Linked DNA regions of Homo sapiens. The protein of the gene in region 2 purifies or fractionates together with the protein of the main gene of each other region. This does not show direct contact. Each region holds a gene or a part of one and is shown on either strand. Other genes may lie near its edges. The genes, in order: POMGNT2 and ELMO1.

Region 1 (3,638 bases), on a different chromosome or scaffold from region 2:
TGCTCCCATGGAAGCCAGACAAGCCAGTTAGCTGAATGTCAGGTACAGTATTAGGCCAAACTGCCCATGGGAGTTTTTGACCTCTGATTGATAAGCTACACCTGGGCTGGAAGGACAAAGAATAAGCTATACCATCTGGTAAGAAACCATGGCCTTAGGCTTCCCTAAGTGCAGAAACTCATAACTGGGCATGTCCCTTGAGGGACCCTGGGAACTCTGATTGTGGGTTGTTGAAAACACATTGACTCCTATGGGGCATGGGCTTCTGAATCAAGGTGGCCCTCAGGAGTACTGATGTAAGGACTGCTCCTGTGGAAGGGAACTGCTGACATGGCCCTGCTGGCATGCTGAGCATCTCTCTCCATCCTTCTAAGAAACTCTGATGCCAGGTATGATCTGTCCAGGTCTTGCGAGTCTTAATGTCTAGTTGAGCCCAAAAAAAAACCCATGGTGGATACAGCTCTTCCTCCCCTCAGCCCTCTCCTACCTACTTCTAGGCTTTTATCCCATGTAGGTGGAACTGTGATATTAGTCCAGCTAGTCAAGATGAAATCCAACCAGCTTGCTCACTTTGCCATCCTGGGCGCTTTCCCATTGCCACGTCTCCCTAGCTAACAATCAAGATTAAAGGGCACCTGGGTTTTGACGACCAGCTCCCCTTCCTCCCATCCAATAAGAAGACTTGACCAAGATGCTTAGAATCATTTAATGAATGTTCCAAACACACCCTTCACTGGGCTACAGGTAAATTTCACTGGGATGGAAGCAGATGAACCACCCAATCAAACAGTACATGATTACTCGGTTTCCAGAAATCTGGATACCAGAAAAACTCAGTAGGAAACATCAGGATCACCTAGCCAGAGGTTCCTTGTGATTCTTTGCTTCCTCCTCTCCTCTTCCTCCTCCCTGCTAAGGAACTTCTCCAGGGGTACAAATGTTCAGGATGGGAGAAGGGGAAGTCAGGTCCCTTATCTCTAGGGCAAAGAGGAGTGCTGTGACACCACACCCCAGAGACAACAAGATGATGTGGAGGCACAGGCCTGCTCAATAAATAGTTCCCAGAAGTCTCCACAGTGGGATTAATGGGCCCAGGGACGCTGAACTGCAGGAGCCACCTTCCCGAGGCCAGGCTGTGGCCTGCTCGCTACGTGTTGCACACCAGCACATCTGCAAAGGGTCCCAGGAGGATCTTGTTGAAGATGCAGCGGACCCACACCAGGTAGGTGGTGAAGGGCTTGATGTTCTCAGTGAAGGTGTGGTTCTGCAGAGCCAGGATGTAAGGCACGTAGGTGTTCTCCCCCTGCTCCTGCAGCCACACCTCGTACTTCACCTCCCTCACCTTCAGGTATTTAAGGTTCCATGGGATCTGCCAGGAGACAGTGAGGCGGGCCTCGGAGGCGCCATGCACTGACGCCTGGCACCGTGCCTCCCGCACCTTGCCTGGATATAGGCCGACTGTCCACTTCTGCTTCCGTGGTCCTGGCCGGCCCTTCACCACGCGCCGTATGGTTTGAATGAGGGACGGGATGTCCACCTTGGTGTCCTGGTAGATTCGGAAGAGCCACTCGGGGTTCCGGCAACAGAGATGCCGTGGGACCTCACGGCTTTGCAGGATACGGGCTTGCTCAGCCCGGTCCAGATGGGTGATGCCCCCCTGATCCCAGGGCCGCTCAGGGTGTGTGACTGTGTTCTCTGGCATCATGTTCCGCCAGGCTACATACTGGAGGTCCATGCCAGGCAGCATGGCCAGCGTCTTATAGGGAGTGTAGTGGTCGGGATTGACAGCATATGGGAAGAGCTCTACCACAGTTGCCCCACGGGGCAGGAAGAGGGTGGTGACCAGCTGGGCCCCATGCATGCTGACCAGCATGGAGGCATTGCTGACCAGCCGCACGACATCAGCAAAGGTGTGGTCCTCCAGGGACACTGTCACTGTCTTCATCTGGAACTCCTGGGCCAGTGCCAGCAGCAGCTCTGCCTCATTCAGAATGAGTCTGTTCTGGGTTCGGCTAAAGACCAGAATGTACTCCTCGCCTAGGGGGACTCCTGTGTGGCTCACGTTCAGCTTTTCTGTCATGAACCGTGCAAACTGCCGGATCTCATTGCCTGAGACGAGGATGTTGGCCTTCGGGCCCTGGGGCTGCACAAAGCCATACTGGTACCAGGTAGTGATCTTGGAGAGGCCCACAAAAGCATGGGAGAAGCACAGCAGCCGGCCCAGGGTCTTCAGCTGTGCCCGCAGGAGAGGCTGCTTGGGGCTGAGCAGCTTGTAGAGGTCGAAGTGTGCACCCTCGCCCCAGCCCTCCATGAAGAAGAGCCGTGCCTCGTGGGCCAGGCCGGGAAACTGCCGCAGGGTGTAGAAGAGTGGCAGCAGGTCGTCATGAAAGACGTGCATGAGGTTGTCGGGGTTGAAGCGGTTGGCGATGAGGGCCACGTCTGGCACGAACACCGGCTTGGGCATGAAGCGCAGGGCAGCAGCAGGCAGCTCCACGAAGTTGAAGTACTGAGTGTTGTGGTCCTCCACGGTGGATAGGTCGAGCAGGGCTGGCTGGAAGCGCCGGGAGCCCAGGTTGGGCAGCATGACAGAGGTGTTGCCATGGAAGAAGATGAACTCCTCAGCCTCGTTGGAGTAGCAGAGCCACTTGAAGCGGCAGATGCGGTCTGTGTGCGTGCGGCCCGTGCACACCATGTGTGTGCCGCCCTCCATCAGGATCTGCAGTGCCTTCGGGTAGTCGATCCTCAGTGCTGGGGCTGGCTCTGTGGCCTGTCGGCTGAGGGCCAGCTCCTCCTCCAGTGTGGCTGCATGCTCACGCAGCCGCACATGCTTCCACAGGACCGCTGCCAGCACCGACACCAGGAGGGCGTTGAACACCGCCGAGAGGTGCATCCTAATGCCACTGTGGGGCCCTAATGAGATGACGGCCACTGGGAAGCACCACAGGCCAGGCAGGCTTCACCCATCCCTATGGGCATCCTGAGAACTGGTGAAAGCCTGCAGGAGGAGAGAAGGAAAAGAAAAAGGAATTGGCAGTCTTCCTGGCATCATTACAAGCTCCTGCTATGTGCCAGGCACGGTAGCTAGGCTCTGTGTGCCCGCTACAGCACTGGATCCTTGCAGCCATTGTGCACATTGGTAGGCGTGGTAGATTAGACCATTGTTTAAAATATTCTCTCCCTCCCCATCGCCTCCATGTTGGAAAGTGCATCCCCACACCCGACTTTGGGCTTAGCCATTTAACTTGCTTTGGCCAGTGAGATGTCAGCAGACAGAACATAATCAAAGGTTTGGAAAGTGTTTGGGCTGGCCTTGCCCTCTTTATGACACTGCCATAAGAAGAATGTATTCAGGCTAACTTGCTGGCCCCAAGAGGAGCGAGATACGCATGAAGCAGAACTGCTCCGGCCATGCCCTGTTCTAGTTCAGCTGATCCCTCATGACTGAGTGGGCCCAGCCAAGAGCAGCAGTGCGATCAGCCAAACGCAGCCAAGATCAGCCAACACATAGACATCAGGGCTGAGCAACAGCTGATTAAACATCCCTGAAATTCTGGGGCTGTTTGTGATGAAGCACTGCTGCAGCAAAAGCTAACAAAGAGAGGCCATAGGAAAGACAGGCCATAGGAAAATCCCTTGCA
Region 2 (7,592 bases):
CCCCACCCACTCACACCAAACACCCAAAGGGGTTAAATTACTTTGAAACACTCAAGAGTTAGCTTCTTTTCAATATAGTAATTTAGTAAATGTTCAAGACTTAGCTGCACCTGCAGAACACCTTAATGTTTTCTCACTTTTATTTTTCTTCTCCTAGGCATTTCTCATCTCCCCTGCATCTGCCACACAGCCTCCCTTACAGCCTCCTGTCTTCACTTCCATATTGTAGGAGAGCAGAATGGGACACAGTAGATGCCTCTGACTTCAATCCCCTTACAATCATGCCCTTCCTCCTAGGCTAAAGCAACACAGACTTCTTTAAAAGACCTTCTCCAAGGAGAGTGATGAAACACCAGATCTGGAATGGTTATGTGTCATTAAGTGTACTGGTTATCTAATCTCCCAAGGAATCACCTCTCTGTTCCTTTCTTCAGGCAGAAAAAGGGAGGAGTCTACTCAAGGCAGAACAGAGTCTAAAAGAAGAGTGGCCTGGCATGGGGGAAAGGACAGCGAAAAAAGCAAAAGCCCATTACCTGGGCTTCTCACTTGCACTAATGCTGCAACATTTTCCTGGTATATTTCCCTGGTGGATCTCTCCCAGTATAGCCACCTCTCATTTAGTCAGTCAACAAACACTTATTGAGCACCGACATCATGCTAAGAATCCATCCAGGTTCTGGAGCTGTAAACAAGACAAGGTAGTCACTACCCTCATGGAACTTCTGCTCTAACAGGGAGAGAGACAATACTCAAAATACACCAATGACTGTATAATGCCAGGGAGTAAAAGGTACTAAGACAAAAAACTGAGTAACATAAGAGGCCCAGGGAGTGTCTGGCTGCTATTTTATATGGGGTAGCCAGGGAAGGCCCCCTATAAGCTGACAACTGGACAGAGACCTGAAAGAAGCAGGGGAAGTGAGTCATCTGGACATGTGGGAGAAAAGCTCCTCCTGTAATATCATGGGCAAAGGCCCTAGGGAGAGAACTCAGTGAAAAAGAAGAATGTAAGACGGTGAGGGTGCCTGCAGTTACCAAGGACAGTAAGCATGACCATCACTAGAACTGCCCATCTTCTTGCCCAATGACTGCTCCAGGCCCTGAGTTTCCCCAGACTCCCATCCGGGTCTGCCTCCGAGCCTGCCCCTCCCTGATACCTACCATACTTCTTGTTCTCCAGTTCAGTACCCTCCTGACACAACCCCTCCCCAAGAGTCCCAGCAGTCCAGGTCATTTTCTCAAAATTTACCAACCTAATAAAAACAAACAAAACAGAGTAGAAACAAGGCAGCATGCACATTTAACCACAGCCTTCCAGAGATAGGAAATGTACAATAATAAAGAGTAAAGCTTCAAAAGGTCAGCTATAAGAAAAATTAAAAATATGTGATGTTTCTGCAGGGGATCTGGCCTCCTAACTTACCATTATTTTCCCCCAGATCTGTAAATTATGGGACATTAATGCTTGAAACAACCTTGGAAAGTAGGCATGGAGGTGAGATAATATGAGAACCCTGGCCAGAGGAGACCCCAATAATAGCTGCTGCCGGTTTTTGCAATCTCAAAGTGATTCTGAGAAGGATTATATCCCTCTATGTCCCAAAGTTGCTCGCAGGGTTTTGGTGTGTAAATACAGGTCATTAATTACTTTTATAGAAGCAAAAGAGAAACACTCAGATATTCTTCCATAGCTTCATCCCCAAGTCACTGGCAGCGCCCAACAGGAAGCCTCCGCTTCTGGAGGCCTCAACCCGTCTTAGATTATCTGAAATCTTAACCATAACGAATTAGGCCCGAATCATTCAAGGCCAGCGGTGTTGGGAAGCCCATGATCCAGCGCGGGGGGCATCCCAAATATATTCACTGAGTCTCGGGAGCCGTCCAGGGACTCTCAGAGCTGGGTCACTACCTGGGACCAAGCCTGAGGCTGGTCCTTTAGGTCAAGGCAGGTCCCGACCCGCCTCCAACTTCAAATGGCCCCCTAGGCGGGAGAGGGTCACTGGGCGGGGAGTTCCTGGCTGTGCGGTCACACACACACACACCGACTCACACACACACCCACAACACCCCCCCCACACACACACACTCACACACACACCGACGACACACCACACACACATACATACGCGCGCGCGCACACACCACACACACACACACACACACACACACACACACACGCCGCCTCGCGCGCGCTCGCGGCACAGCACCGACTTCCCAACCCCAAACACACGCGCGCACCCCCGGGACAGCTGAGTTCTGTATTTCCTCTTCCTCAAAGCGACTCCGGCGATCGCAGTCGCCACTCTCCGCTCCGATTCCCGGGCCCCCTGGCATGCCGCCGCCCCCTTCTCTGAAGGCGCGCCCGGTGCGTCCCCTCTCCGAAGCCGAGATTTCCACGAAGCTCCACAAAGCTCCCCGCCGCCTCTCTCGGTCTCGGCGGAGACCCCGGTGTGTCCCCGGGAGGAGAGTATTTACTAACCAGAACCTCAGGGGCTCCCGGCTGCCCAGACCGCCCTCTCCGGCCCTCCTGGCCCCCATTCCTCTGGCCCATCACCGCCCCCTCCCACGAGCGCGCTCGCCGGGGGATTCCCTCCCATCCCCGAGTGCAGGAGAAGACGCCGAGTCTGAGCCGCAGCCGCTTCTCTAGCTCTATAGGAATCTTGACTCCAAGATCCCAGCCCCACATCCCCCGTCCCCAGTAACCCCGCGCCAGCGTCGCAACCCTCCCGCGCCCCCCCTCCCGCAGACCCTGGTCGAAATGTCTCGGCGGGCTCCCGGGCCCCGGGCCCTGCGCTTCATCCGCGGGCGCCGCACCTCCAGCGCCCCCTCCCTCCGCTCCCACTCCCACTCCCGCCATCCCCGGAGCTCAGACTTCCCCAACTGCAGAGCGCCCCGACGCGCCCGCAGCCCTCACCCTGCCGAGCGCGGCGGCCACCCCCGCCCGAGCCGCGGCGCCCCCAGGGAGGAAACAAAAGTGTCTCCGCGGCGCCCGGAGTCCCCCGGAGCAGGACGCCTCCTCCCGGCCCCAGTCCCGGCCCCCTCCCCTGCCGCGCCGAGGTCAGCGAGTCGGGGCGCGGCGCCAGCCCAGGAAACTTTACGAACCTGCTTGGGGTCGCAGGACAGCAGCGGCAAGGGTTCCCGGCGATCAGAGCTCCGGCGACCCGCCACCATTGAAGGGGAACTGGAGGCTCTGTCGCCCAGCGTGGGGCCGCGGCGGCGTGGGTGGCTCTGCCTCTATCCTGTGCCCATCCTCGCCCGCTCCCGCTCGCCCCAGCACACGCACTTACACTCTGGGTCGGCCGGCTGCTGCACCGCCGGCTGCCGCTGCTCTCACTTCCTCTTCCTTCCTCCTGCTGGCCAGAGACACATTTTGCATCTGCAAGGCATCCGGAGATCAGCCGCGAACTCTCCTCCCGAGCGGACGCTGCGGAGTTGCAGCCGCCGCCCCCGGCACCTGCGCCAGGACACTCGTGGTCTGCGCGTTCGCCTTGCGCCCGCACCCTGCCTGGTCCCTGCCCACTGCACTTTGCCTAGGGGGATGCCCACGACTTTTTGAAGTCCCCCTACTTAAAAGACAGAAATGTCAAACACCATGCATGCCTCAGATCTGCTATAAATAATATGTGTGCAGAGCATGACTTCGATGAGCTCACACACGGCGTTTGGAGGCACTAATTAACTCCGTCACCCTCATAGCGCCATCTCCGGGAGGCCAAAAGCGAGTAGCATCTTTTCACATCCTTTTTTAATTTTTGGCAACCGGTTCCGGATATTAAGGGGAAACTTCGGTGGGCTGTTTGAACGCTACTTTAAGACGTGTTTGTTTTGACGCTGTGCCTCTACCCTTGGACAGAGTGGCAAAAAAAAAAAAAAAAAGTTTCCTCCCTCTCCGTCGACATCTATGTATTTACTAACCCTGCAATTGAAACTACAAGATGTATTTCTAACCAATTAAGCCAGGGACTTCCTAATTTTGCATAACTTTGCATAAGGCAAGACGTTCCACCCATAATTTGATATTTAGAATAAATTACTTAATTCATGCAACCTACTTAAATCATTTTCAAAGCAGAAATCAAAAACGTTAACTCCCAGCCTAGCTGGCAGGAGGGAAGAGGGTTGCAGGCGAACCACCTGTCCTCCCCCAGTTCAGAAATACCTACATTGGCTCTACCGGAAAAGTCAAAGGCAGTTCGGCATTTTCTTCTAATTGGCAAAGGAAATAAGTCGGGGGCAGGGAGGCATCAGAATCAAGGTGGAAAACTAAGCTCCCTTTTAAGATCTTCCCCCTCAAGAGCCACAGGCAGCTGTTGAGCACTTGAAATGTGGCTATCCCTGAGATGTTCTGTAAGTGTAAAACAGACATACAATTCAGTATTTTTAAAATGAATGTAAACTAACTTGTTAAGTATGTTTATGTTGATTACATTATTGCAATACATGAGAATAGTCTGATGTAGTAAGTCAGTTGGATTCGTCATGTGTTGGGTTAAGATATAAGCATATATAAGATTAATTTCACCAGTTTCTTTTTACATTTTCTGATGTAGCTACTAGAAAATGTAAGGCTACACATAGGCTCTCATTAGTGGCTCACCTTATACTTTTAATGAACAGCTCTGATCTAACTCCTTATTATACGCATGACTCTGGGAGGCAGTATTAGTATCAAGAGTGCCTGGGTCCAGATGGTTATAAGCCAGTAACTAAAGCAGGGTGACTGCAGGAAAGCAACTTAACTTCTGTATTTCCTCATCTATAAAACAGTAATGATATAATAACAAAAGTCAATAGCACCAACTATTAAATGAAGTAATTTAATAAGTAGTCAGTAAATGGAGCCTTTACTAACGATGCTCTGAGACACTTGTAGTGATAAGTATGAATTTGATCTACAACCTTGTAGCTAAGGCATATAAAGACCTTAACTTTAGTGCATGCGTGGTGAGCACTCAGTAAACATTAGCTGTCATAATTGTTCCCTCCTTGCACAGCAATTATGCAAATCCACTCCCCTGTAACCTTTGGTCCCGGGTCTTCACATCTTTCCTCCATGAAGTAGTCTTTCAGATCTTTGAAGTCAGCCCTCAAATTTTACCTAAACACTCTCTTTTGAGGATTAACCATCCTCAATTATTCTGACTCTTCTTCATGTGACATGGCTTCAAGTCTCTCTCATTTGAGCCATCTTCTCCCAGAAGAATATCTGTCTCTGCCCTTTAAAAAAAAAAAAGAAAAAAGAAAAAAAGAAAAAAAAGTAGTCTTATAGATTAATTACGTAATTAACCATTAGCAAACACAATACAGCCTGAGATCTTCTCTCTCTCTCTCTTTTTTTTTTTTTCTCAAATACATCTCAGTGTTGATAGGAGTGCAAGGGGAAGACTGGAAATTCTTTACAGTGTTACGGTTAGGCCATGTGCGGGAACATGGAGTTGATCTTTGGAACCAAAGTTCCTGATCCACTTTCTCTAAGTCCCTTAGGATTTAATTCAGGCATCCAGTGTCTCCCCATATCCATGGATTACATTAAAATATTAAGATGCCACATGACATCCCACTAAGGAGCTCCCTCTGCTAAGCTGGGAGAATAGCATTCTTTGGTTCACTGGTTATTAATAAACTGCTTAACAGTGCAATTGCCAAACTTCAATTTTCTCTTCTATTCATAAAGACATCTTAGAAGTATTGTCAAGTGTCTTAGAGGAACCCGCCTTCTCCCTCAGCTCTGCTGGTGGTCAGCAATGGATGCAATAAAGTGGAATATGTGGTGTTGTCATGTATGTGGGCTCCATCTTTGGACCTGGTTGTTGTGTATAAATCCCACCATTACCATTTACTGGCTGCATTACTCTTAACTCATGAGATTGAAACCATGTCTGCCAGATACGGTTAAGTGAAGATTAAATGAGTTAATTCATGAAAAATTCTTAACAGGGCCTAACACATAGAAACACTCATTGAATGTTAGCTATTATTATCTACAATAGTTCTTCAATGGACAAGTCATATTAACAGACTCAAAAAATAAAAGAGCAACATCCACTCCCTCTTTTCACATGTCAGTCTCCACCCATAATGGTGAGAAAGATCTGTTGCCACTGTCCCTTCTCAGCTCCTGGTCACAGCTTGGGCCATTCAATCATTAGGTCATGCTTTAGCAGTGAGGACGGCCATTTTATAGCAAGGAACAGAATCCAAGTGCATCCCTTCACTTGCACTTCTGGTAAGCCCACCTGGGCAGAACTTAGACCTTTGTGCAGACAGGCCAGCCTCATCCACATCTCAAGTGGTTAGGGAGACTGATTCAGGATCTCCTCTGTAGAACCATCTGTCTTAGTTTCAGGATAAGTAGAGGAAAAGAGAGCAGGGTAGGGACAGATGGCTGGAAAATCAAAATCACTTAAGCCTCAAGTCTAAGCTTCATTCCCCCACCGTGTTTCTATAAGAAAGCTTTGAATTGTTAATGGACAGAGAGGTATTTGGGGCAGTTTCTCATATTTAAATACTTTGATCTTGTGTTTCCCATGTCTTTATCTTTCCTTGTGTGTACAAAATTCCAAACTAGGAGGATTGAGATCCTATCAAAATGTCACCATGCAAAGTGTCACCATGAAACCCCAAACTGCAATAATGGCCTGTTGTATTTTTAATCAATGATGACTCACATTGATCAACTCCTTCCTAAGTGCTCATAAATATTAATTTCTAATTTAATTTTTAAACATTGGATTCTAAATGGATCCTGTGCATTTAATAATACATTCAGTAATTTGCTCCAAATTTCTGCTCCAAATCAGCACTAAATTCCTTGATCTACAGTTTGACAAATCTATTCCCTTTTCTTGTGTTAGAATCAGGCTCATGCTGGTTTGCCTCCAGTCTTCAAACAGCTCTGGGGACATAGAGAGTTGCCTCAGCTCCAGGAAGCCGCTACACCAGGGATAATGAGATCTGGGCAGCAGGCAGACACCTGCAATTTAGAGCCACTAGGGTCAGCCCTGGAACAAGCAGAATGACACGGAGGGCTGCTGTGAGAGGGCATTCCTTCACTTGATCGTTCATTAATTCAACGTGCACTGAATGCTTTAAATGTGAGTTTAAAAGGGAGGAAGGGAGAGTACAATCACGAACAAGACAAACATGGCTTGCCCCCTTTTGGCACTCCCATTCTAGCTCAGAAGACAGATTTTAAATGGCCATAAAAACAAGTGAGGAGTATAATATTAGGAGAAGGACAGAAGATTGCAGGACTATGCGGAGACAGGGATGCTAACATCATCTGTAAGTCAGGAAAAGCCTCCTGGGGAAGTTCTGTTGATTTGAGACCTGAAGGGTGAGTGAGGAGGTGTTATCCAGGACAAAAAGACAAAAGGAAGTAGGTTGGTAATGAGGAAGGATTCTAAGCAAAAACAGTTAACTTTGTATGAAGGTTCACATCAAGCTTGTCCAACCCACGGCCCACAGTCCGCATGTGGCCCAGGACGACTTTGAATGCAGTCCAACACAAAATTGTGAACCTTCTTAAAACATTATGAGTTTTTTTGTGATTTTTTTTTTAGCTCATCATTAGTGCTAGTGTATTTTATGTG

Evidence for each region.
Region 1: the proteins of ELMO1 (region 2) and POMGNT2 purify together in Homo sapiens (co-immunoprecipitation; 2 studies listed by BioGRID and IntAct, with this or other methods). This does not show direct contact.

What each region holds. Positions count from the first base shown.
Region 1 is NC_000003.12:43,078,542-43,082,179, forward strand, and holds the end of POMGNT2 (protein O-linked-mannose beta-1,4-N-acetylglucosaminyltransferase 2), read right to left. Parts: intron 2,996-3,638; 5' UTR 2,891-2,995; coding exon 1,148-2,890; 3' UTR 693-1,147; downstream 1-692. UniProt on the Homo sapiens protein: O-linked mannose beta-1,4-N-acetylglucosaminyltransferase that transfers UDP-N-acetyl-D-glucosamine to the 4-position of the mannose to generate N-acetyl-D-glucosamine-beta-1,4-O-D-mannosylprotein.
Region 2 is NC_000007.14:37,445,573-37,453,164, forward strand, and holds the start of ELMO1 (engulfment and cell motility protein 1), read right to left. Parts: upstream 3,293-7,592; 5' UTR 3,103-3,292; intron 3,007-3,102; exon of another isoform or gene 2,915-3,006; intron 1-2,914. UniProt on the Homo sapiens protein: Involved in cytoskeletal rearrangements required for phagocytosis of apoptotic cells and cell motility. Acts in association with DOCK1 and CRK. Was initially proposed to be required in complex with DOCK1 to activate Rac Rho small GTPases.